Regions from separate parts of the Homo sapiens genome. Here region 2 is linked to region 1. Evidence: fine-mapped expression QTL. A gene starts in region 1. The other region holds a variant in brackets. All regions are shown on one strand. Distances are between the middles of the regions. Region 1 holds the start of TSC1 (TSC complex subunit 1). Region 2 overlaps TSC1 (TSC complex subunit 1).

Evidence for each region.
Region 2: its variant is fine-mapped to the expression of TSC1 in whole blood (TOPMed, PIP above 0.99).

Annotation. Positions count from the first base shown.
Region 1 is chr9:132,942,394-132,947,914 of GRCh38, forward strand. TSC1 (TSC complex subunit 1) reads right to left here and starts at 2,223. Exons shown (of 23, transcript NM_000368.5): 1 at 2,150-2,223. It overlaps MIR548AW (microRNA 548aw), which reads left to right and starts at 3,314; the gene lies at 3,314-3,378. It also overlaps a transcript of GFI1B not described here. RefSeq lists silencers at 1,831-1,890, 1,951-2,010, 2,541-2,620 and enhancers at 2,095-2,828, 2,141-2,440, 2,801-2,940.
Region 2 is chr9:132,904,840-132,909,839 of GRCh38, forward strand. TSC1 (TSC complex subunit 1) reads right to left here. Exons shown (of 23, transcript NM_000368.5): 13 at 2,462-2,531; 14 at 1,892-1,996; 15 at 742-1,300. Among named protein-coding and RNA genes, the nearest start is that of SPACA9, 28 kb to the left of the region's middle. The variant ATAC/A (reference allele first, on the strand shown) is at 2,138.

The DNA of each region.
Region 1 (5,521 bases):
GTTTCAGATCTCGTTTCCACCAAGTTCATTATTCTGCAAACATTACATATAGAGGTATATATTAGATTTGCCCTAGTAAGACTGTTAAGTTTCATCTCACGAATGAAACCAGGCATGCACAGAAGGCATCATATTACACCACAACAGTAGCAGTATCAGTTTTTACTCTTAACCCAGTGAGGAAGAGGACAACTGAGTCACAGGACCTGAAGCACTCTAATTTTATGGAAACAAGAAGGCTGGTAGCCACCTGCTTTCTAACCAGGAATTTAGGAACGTACCAAGTGTTTATGACACCAGGAAATGCATGCAGCAGAGAAAGTTTACATCATCTGCCCTTCTAGGCACGTGATATAAGAGTGTTTTGGATAAGATATTAACTTTAGTAAGAGGATATTTTCCGTTTACATCTTCTATAAATACCCCTTAAGTTTACACCAGGTGGTTAGAGGAAGATTCTGCAGCTCCCTAGGGCAATAGCAAAGAATGTTTCACTGTTTCTGAGGAGCCTCATTTGCCTGATGCATGACTGTTAAAGGTGCATTTCCCTACACAACCCTAAATCAGTTTTCACATTTGCATATTCCAGATTTACTCAGGAATGTTCAATTTAAGAATCACAGGTGGTTGCTCGGTAAATCAAAGGCTCCCCAAAGATTAGGTTTTATAATGCTTCCTGAAATTTACAGCTCCACTTTGCCGGCCTGTTTGAATTCAGATGACTCCAAGTTGATCCCAAAATTATAAATCAAAGTATCTCAGAAGAGTATTATTCTATTTTAGCACTTTTATAGCTTACTCTATGCAACGTGAAGTGTTATTTGTATGCTTTCTATTTAAAAAAAAAAAAAAGCCAGCAAGGATTTTAGCAGGACTTCTTTCTTCAGTAAACTCATCAGTTTTATTAAACTATCAAATACTTTTTAGCCTAATTTAGACTAACAAGTTCACATGCACAACACTGCCATCCCAAACAAAAGCTAAGGCGGATAAGCCAAGTGCATCCCCCCACTTCAACATTAAACAGACACACGTGCATAAACCTTGGCTAAATGATAAATTTTAATCACTTACAGGCCAGCTTTGATCAAATAACAGATAAATTTAAGAGTCATATCTTTGGAGTCAGTCAGATCCCAGCAGTTCCAGTCCTGGCTCAGATACAATTGGGGTGTGAACTTAGGCAAAGTACCCTGCTCTCTCCGGGCCTCAGTTTCTTCATTTGAGAAGATTGGAGGTGTTAACAGTGGCTGCCTCTTCTCTTTGTCGTGAGGACCAAAGGAGATAATGACTGCCAAGCACTTTCACAGTGCCTGGCACACAGAGAGCACTCCATTAACGTTAGCTGTTGTTCTTAGGAGGACCGCGTCCCCTCCCAAGTCCTCACCACACATCCAAAACACACAAAGCAAAACTCTTTAACAGGAAACACAAAGAAAGAGCTTTAATTCTACAAGGTCCCTCCGATTGCAGGCTCTTCATCCTCCAGTTCCTCAAATGAATGAATGAACGCCTAGGAGGGGCTCTGCAAATAGCTGTCTCTTAGGAATCCCCTTTGCCCACTTTAAGGTAACTGTCTTTCACCACCAATTAAACACCCACAAGTACACCCAGAGCGAGTCATGCAAATTTCAGCGGAGACACCGAATCCAGGCGAGTCCTTGATCCCCACAGGCGACCTCCATTCATTCTCCACGCCCCTATACCCCGACCCCTCTCTTTAAGTTCTGGGACCAGCCCCACCCTCGCGACCCTTCCCCTCCCGCCAAGCGTCTCTACCCTGCCCTCCGCACCTAGCGTGAACCTGTCACCCCACCAAGTGAGGGACTGACGAAGGGGCCCACCTCGCCCCTGCCCGAGGGACCGAGGCCCAGGGTGCAGCCGTCCCCTCGGGGGCCAAGGAGGGGCGAAGTGCTCCGTCCGGCTCGCCTCTCCTCCCCAGGGACCCGCCAGTCCCGGCCGGGCCAGCCGGAGATAGCGTGTAATAAGAGGGAGGGGAGAGCTCTCCGAACCCCCCTTCCCCGGGATCCCTACCAAGCAAGTGAGTCTCTTGCTCCAGCCCCTCCGAGCCTCCCCGGCTGGAGTCATGGTGCCGGGGCTGCCCCAGGAAGCCCCCATAAAAAGGAGGGGGAGACACCCCCATACTCACCCACCGTCTCCTCCCCCTCAGCTGTTTACCTCACAGTCCCTCCAGCCTACAGGGCGCCGCCATCTTGGACGTACAGCACCTCCCCCGTCGTGAAAGGGCCAAGGCCGACGGCGGCCTCCGCCACGAAAAAGAGTCCCCCTCCGGACCTCCCCTCCTTCTCGAAAGGAAGGATAGACGGCCGCGCTCGGCAGCCCCGCCGGAAGGAAGAGGCTCTTCCACTCATAACTGACGATGTGGGTTGGACGAGAAAAAAAGTAAGGAGGGTTTTTATGGAGGGGGGCGGGGCCGGGCGGAAGGATCCGAAAGGAGGCTGCGAAGAGATCTTGTGACTCCGCGAAGGAGGCAAAAAGAAGGGCCGGCGCGGCGGGAGGAGCCACGCGAGAGCCCGAGGGGGCGGGGCGGGCGGTCACGTGACTGGCGGGCGGGGGGACGCGGCGGAGAGGCGTAAACAAGCTGGCGGCGCCTGGGTGTGGTTGGAGCGCCCTGCCCCTGCCCCCCGAGTCGTTTCTGCCCTTCGCTTGCGTGGCGCCCTCCGAGGGTCTCTCTGTGGGCGGCCTCAGAGCAGCGATCCTGTTTCCCAAGGAGCTGCTGGGGCCCGCGTGGGTGAAGGGCCTGCTTGGGAGCTTTGGAGTTGCAGCTCACCTGGGAAGGGGCGGAAAGCTGCGGGCCAGGGCAGCCCTCCTTCCTGGGCTAAACATTTTCAGAAGCCCGCCTCCGGGATTGCGGGGGACCCCCCTGGCTTCTGCCTTCAAGTAGCTCACACTTCACACCTACTCATGACATCTAGGGGAAACCAGCCCTAATAGGAGACAGCTTGAAAATCAGAACGCCTTATTCCGTTTCCTGCTGAAACAAGGCTTTAAGTCCTCCAAGCCTCAGTTTCTTCCTCTGTGAAATGGGCATAATGACATCTGTGACGTGAAGAATCAAGGAGATGAAGTATGGACAGCGTTTAGCCCAGAGTCCTGCGCCTAGTAAATGCTCACTCACTAGATAGGTGGCCTTTATTGCGAGGCTGAGTATGATGGGCTCCATCCAGCACGAACACAAAGCCCTGTGAGAGGAGGCAGAGTGAGATGAAGTCGAACTGTGGGATATGAAAGGCATTTTGAAGGAGTAGGCATCAGGTTGGGTTTTAAAGGAAATGTAGGTTTTGTGAAATACTAGGTCGGTGCAAAAGTCATCACGGTTTTTACCATTAAAACCGCGATGACTTTTGCATCAACCTAATAGAACCAGGCGAGGCGGCTCGGGAGAGAAGGCCATTCCAGGCAGAGGGAACCAAAGGAGCAAGAGCCTAGGGGCAAAAAAGTGTTGGGTGAGTTATGGGAATAACAGGTTTTGTCATGGGAACCAATTGGGTCACAGTGCAAGGCAGCCATGGTTAAGGGGGGCCAGGTGTGTGAGTAGCCAGCACCGTGGGTGCCTTCAGAATTCTGAAAAGGCCCTGGATGGTATCGGGTAGAGCCGCTGCTAGTCAGTATAGGGCCTTGGTGAGAATTAGAAAAATGGCACCCCTGGGCTGTATTTTGGCCCCTATCCACCAGCCCCAAACCCTCCTGGGCCCTTGAGCAGTGAACAACCTTTATAACCATACGTCTAGAGCCACGAAGGCTTAGGAGGGAGGTGAAAATTGAACTGATGATTCCTCTGTTCTAACACAGTCGCTGGGGGGAAGCTAAGAGTTCTAGATTCAAACAGACCAGAGTTTGAATGTAGGTTTCAGCCATCATGTTCTAACTGGATGAGCCTTAGTCTCCTCACCTGCAACATAGGGCTAATAATAATGCTAGTTCATGGGGATTTGGGGTGAAGTCAGTGAGTCATTAAGCTCTAAGTGGCACAGAGCCTACTCCAGTTAATGTTATTTTTGATAACTGTTAAGTGCCAGCTGTCAGCATCCATCACTTCCAGAAACGGGTCCACCAAACACTAAATTCTTCTGTGTCACCACCCAAGCATAGTCTGCATGGGGTCCAGAGATGGAAAGGTCGAGGGAAACGGGGAAGGGTCTGGGTTCTCTCAGTTCCACCAATCTGCAAACTACTTTACAGGAACAGACTCTTCCCTTTGCATTCACACCAGGGAAGGGATTCAAGATTTCTGAAATCTTCAGAGATTTCTGAGACCACCAGTGATGGGAGACCTAAGGAGGAGGGCAGGGGGAGCAGCACTGCTCTGGAGCTCTGACCCAGGAAGCCCCCCCACACCCTGACCTTCCTTGGCTCCATGACCTCATCCTGCAGGAATGCATTCTGCCATGGAGGAGAGCAGCCATAAGCAGAGCTCATCAACTGCTCACTTTCCAGGGGGCCATAACCACATTGTCACTGTTTCTACACTGTCTGGAAGAAGAATGGGCATTGTTACCTCAATATGGGACCACCAGGGGCTTGCAAGAAGAGGCTGAAGGTGACAGGCAGAGACAGCTCTACTACCATCTCCTGCCACTTACCAGGCTGGGCCACCTAGATGTTTTCTGCTTCTCTGGGGTTGATTTTTGTCATTTGCTCAACAGACACTATTCAGACCACTACCTTCCATACACCACCCTGGAGCCTCCCTGTGACGGGGCTTCCTGACCGGCCTGTCTGAGCATGAAAGGGCTGAGCCCTCCATAGGCGGGCGTGCTGACAGGATGCACGTGGTGGAGGACATCTGCTGCATTTGGCTGTGTGACATCTCCCCCTCGCCTTCTGAACAGGTGAACCGCCCATCCTCAATTCTTTCAGTGCTGATGGTCCTCACAATCACAGTACCAGCCCCAGGCCACAGCAGGTGGACCAGGCCTGGCCAATCTGAGATGCCCATCATGGAGCTTGTTAAAAGAAAGCTTAAGACAAGTTCAATTAGATTAAATTTAATCGAGCAAAAAAAAAAAAAAAAAAGAAAGAAAAAGAGAATTCATGAATCAGGCAGCCTCTAGAATCAACAGATTCAGAGAGACTCCCGGGGTCAGAACAAATTTATAGACAAAGTAAAGTGGCCTGGCGCAGTAGCTCACTTCTGTAATCCTAGCAATTTGGGAGGCCAAGGCAGGTAGATGGCTTGAGGTCAGGAGTTCGAGACCAGCCTGGCCAACATGGTGAAACCCTGTCTCTACTAAAAATACAAAAATTAGCCAGGCGTGGTGGCGGGTACCTATAATCCAAGCTACTCAGGAGGCTGAGGCAGGAGAATCACTTGAACCTGGGAGGCAGAGGTTGTAGTGAGCTGAGATTGTGCCACTGCATTCCAGCCTGGGTAACAAAGAGAGACTTGGTCTCCAAAAAAAAAAAAAAAAAAAAACTAAACTAAAGTGACATACAGGAATCAGAAGTGAGGTACAGAAACAGTGAGATTGGTTGCAGCTCGGCGTTTGCCGTATTTGAA
Region 2 (5,000 bases), 38 kb before region 1:
GAGTACACTCTGTTGTAAAGCTATGTCACTCCGATTTAAGGAAAAAGTAGGTAATTTACCTAAGCCTATCATACCAAATCTCGTTTAAAAAGAGGGAGCTTAAATACTATAATCCCTGTCAAATTCCACCATAGCATAGTATATAAGAAGAAAAATAAAAATATTCCCCAAGCACCTGTAAAGTAGCTAATAAAAGACGGATGGGAAACCGTTTCTCAGCTAGAGTCCTTTCTATGAAAACTTGGGTGCCTCAGGGGGTCTGGAGGGGATGTCAGGCCATCTGAACTTGCATAAAATGCTGATGATTTTATCTCCACCTAATGAACTATGATACCAAAATAGAAAATAATAATAATAATCTGTAGCTAGAGAGGGAAACACTGTGACAAATATTCTTATATTCTTTGAAATACCATAACCTCATTTTCAGCCTACAGCTTGCAGAGGGCACATATGAAAGCATTTGAGTGTCCTCATAGAACAGAGGCATAAAATGGCCTATATAAAAAGACTCATTTTGAAATGGACTGCTAAGGAATCATCCCAATTTAGGTGCACAGAGGTCACACATGGTCACATATATGAAGATGCAACAGCCTAGAAGGACATCTGACAAACAGCAGAGAACCAGCTGCCTCAAGGTGGGAGTGTGAAGAATGATTCTTGTTCCTCTCTTACACTTTCTGTACTTCACAATAAAATGGACCATTTAACACAGAAGAGAGTGCCCCAGTCCCTTACTTGTTCAGCTCCTTGCTGTGCGCGTCTGCTCCCTGCTGTATCAGTCTGTCCAGCACTTCCATTGGGGAGGTAGAGGGCACACCATCTTCCTCTGTGTTTCCTTTTGCTTTCTTTAACAGCTCCTCAGTCTTCCTGATGACAAAATGATGGGCTGTCTTTGGCAATGCCACCTCAAAAAGATGATCATACGGGGGAGGCTGCCCGCTTCCAAAGCCCACTCTCGTCGGAGGTGGAATTTTACAAGGACTGGGAGTGAAGATACTGGTCTCCAAAGAAGTCTGGCATTCCCTGTCTCCCGCAGGGCTTTCATCAGCACTGCCGCAGGGCAGGTCTATGGGAGTAAAGGCTTGCTTTGGTGTGTCAGGCCCAAGCTTGTCCAGGGAGGAGTGTAAAGGCTCAGGGTTCACGCTGGCGCCCTGAGAACTGGAGGCTGCCGAGTGGGTCTTCCGCTGAGAACCTGGGAGACTGTCTCGGTAAAAGGGAGAGTCAAAGCCTCCTCGAGGAACCACAGGCTCTGCCTCTGCTGTGGTGATCTCAGAAAGTTCTCTAGATATTGCAGCTGAGAGGAAGAGAGGAAACAAAAGAAATGGCAGTCGGTATTCCACCTGGGAAAGACTAGGCAGTTTGGGTGGCATGCTGCCACATGCCAGTGTCACTCAGAGAGAGGAGAAAAAGTGGCATCCGGCTGGACACAGTGGCTCACGCCTGTAATGCCAGAACTTTGGGAGGCTGAGGAGGGAGGATCACTTGAGCCCAGGAGTTAGAGACCAGCCTGGACAACATAGGGAGATCCCATCTCTACAAAAAATACAATAAAAATCAGCTGAGCATCGTGGTGTATGCCTGTGGTCCCAGCTACTCAGGAGGCTGAGGTGGGCGGATTGCTTGAGCCTGGGAGGTCAAGGCTGCAGTGAGCCATGATCGTACCACTGCACTCCAGCCAGGGTGACAGAGCAAGACCCTGTCTCAAAAAAAAAAAAAAAAAAAGTGGCATCACTTTACCTGGCATAGGTCCCAGACTAAACCACCCATCTTGTTACCTCAAGAGAAGAAAAATCCAGCAAGCCTGTGAGCAATGGCACAAAATCCCAGATTTATAGCAGAGCGAGGGTCAGGTTTTATCAACTCATAGCAATCCCACATACATTACCTTCTTCTTTATCTTTTTCAATACTATCTTCTTCAGAGGCCAGATCACCTAAAAACCCTGGAAGATCACTTAGAGTGACAGAACCTTTGCTGCCAGGTGGCTCTTCTGAAGAGAAACAAAGACAACTGAAGTCAAAGAAATACAGTGTAATCCCTGTAAGTGTAAAACTGCTTACACTGTATAGAATATGTCTGTAATAACTCTTCATGCTGAACAGAGAAGGCTGGACATGGCTCTGTCCTGGGG[ATAC/A]TACAAAAGACTGAAATATTAAAAATAATATAACTAAAAGTACCAAAAATAATCCCATAGCAAATAAAATTCTCAGTTCTTAATGTCTCTGAAAAGAGATATAGTCAAGTCAGAATACAGGTACTTCACTGCAATAGCTTAAAAACTGTTTTTGATATTATTAGGTTGGTGTTTAGAATTCACTACTCGTTTCATTATGTTTAGGCCTCAGTATTTTGGATATCCCAGAATTTCCTTGTTTCCATTTAACTTTCTTTTCTTAAACACATATAACCCAATTAGAAGAGGCAAGCAAGGCCTGTAGTAACGCAGAAATTTTACCTGATCCTCTGTCATTCAGAAGATGGTGTTGTCTGTGTAGACATGGTCTTGCAGAATCCATTCTCTCTTCCTGAAAAGATAAGTATCATTTATATCACAAGACGAAAAATGTTGCACATGTTCTCGAGCATATTGTAAAGTAGTTTAAAGGTCAGCCGAGTGCAGTGATTCTCAAATTGTTGGGATGTTTTCTTTTCTTTTTTTTTGAGGTGGAGTTTCGCTCTTGTTGCCCAGGCTGGAGTGCAATGGCACAATCTCGGCTCACTGCAACCTCCGCCTCCTGGGTTCAAGCGATTCTCCTGCCTCAGCCTCCAGAGTAGCTGGGATTACAGAAATGCACCACCACGCCTGGCTAATTTTTGTATTTTTAGTACAGACGGGGTTTCTCCACATTGGTCAGGCTGGTCACGAACTCCCAACCTCAGATGATCTGCCTGCCTCGGCCTCCCAAAGTGCTGGGACCACGCCCAGCAGCTTTCTTTATAGTCTTAAAAAATGGCTGCAGACTGGGCGTGGTGGCCCACGCCTGTAGTCCCAGCACTTTGGGAGGCCAAGGCCAGTGGATCCCTTGAGCTCAGCAGTTTGAGACTAGCCTGGGGAACATGGCAAAACCCCATCTCTACAAAAAATTTAAAAAGTAGCCGGGCATGGTGACTGGTGCTTGTAGTCCCAACTACCCAGGAGGCTGAGGTGGGAGGACCACCTGAGCCAGGGAGGTCAAGGCTGCAGAGAGCTGCAATTGTGCCACTGCACTCCAGCCTGGGCGACAGAGTGAGACCCTGTCTCACACACACAAAATAATAATAATAATGAGAAAGTTGGAGAATCCCAAGAGCTTTTACGAGGCATAATTATTATATTAGAAAACCAGGAAATTTTTAAAATATTAATTCCCTTAAAAATAGCAAGCCCATTACAAGTTAATGTAAATTACATATTCTTATTAAAAAACTATATTTCCCGAAATAAAAATAAATTTAGTGAGAAGAATGGAACATTTTTGCCATCTCTTTAATATATGGCTTCATGAAAGACAGCTGGATTCTCATATCTACCTCTACATTCAGTCTGTTGCAATATGTTATTTTGACTGAAGTGTATAAAGAAAATCTGGGGCCCCACAGATATGTAATTGCAAAAGTAAACATATGTGTTGTTGTTTTTCTTTTTGAGACAGGGTCTGGCTCTGTCACCTAGGCTGGAATGCAGTGGCGTGATCATGGCTCACTGCAATCTCTGCCTCCTGGGCTCAAGCCGTTCTCCATCAGCTCCCCGATTAGCTGGGACTACAGATGCACATCACCACACCTGGCTTTTTTTTTTTTTTTAGTTGAGATGGGGTTTTGCATGTTGCCCAGGCTGGTCTTGAACGCCTGGGCTCAAGCAATCTACCTCCCTTGGACTCCCAGAGTGCTGGATACAGAAGCAAGCCACCACGCCCAGCCGCAAAAAGTAAACGTATGTTGACAGACTTTTCAAATAATCATCTTTGTTATTACACCAAAATTTGATAAGTGTTAGTTTCTTAAAGTTACAAAGTGAAATTTGAAACCACATCAATGAGCTTTTCCTGTGTTAAAACCCACTAGTCTACCTTGCACTTTTTTTTTTTTTTTTTGTGACAGTCTTGCCCTGTTGCCCAGGCTGGGGCTGGAATGCAGTGGTGTGATCTCGACTTACTGCAACCTCCGCCTCCTGGGTTCAAGTGATTCTCCCGCCTCAGCCTCCCAAGTAGCTGGGATTACAGGTGCCTGCCACCATACCCGGCTAATGTCTATATTTAGTAGAGATGGTGTTTCAACATGTAGGCCAGGCTGGTCTTCAACTGCTGACCTCAAGTGATCCACCTGCTTCAGCCTCCCAAAGTGCTGGGTTACAGGTGTAAGCCACTGCGCCCAGCCTGCTTTGTACTTTGAATGTACTTTTTACCTATGCATGATTCTGCAACGTATCATACATTGGACACTCTGAAAATATTGGCTCCTCAAGCTATTCAAATATTCCAAATGTTGAAACACTTCATTATACAATATCAAAAACTCAAATTACTAACTAAGCTTCCACAGACTTTTCGGTCTCATCATAAAAGTCCTGGGGCAGCTATCAAGTTCATGGTAGTATATACACGTTTTTTAATATCTTGATTTCCACCTGAGAGTTGACTTTTATTGTTGGCAACAAATACTGTCAGTTGTTTATCTTGAAGTGACAGACTCAGCTCATCATTTGAGAAGCTGCCTGCCAAACACCCAAGTCTGAATAACCAGTTTGTAAGACAGCAGTTCTTTCAAATAAAACTGGCATTCCATGAAAAAAGGCAGCTACTTCACCTCTCAATTCAAATAACTGCATGAGGGCCAGAGGTCACCATCATACCCTGGTATGCAGTACATGTGCCTTATGCATATTTTCTATTTTGCCACGAAGAATATTACACATACATGTTCTCAAGGGCTAAGATTTAATAAAATTAATAATGGTTACTGCTTAATACAGAACACTCAACTTTTAAAATTTTTTAGTTTTTATTGTTTTTAAT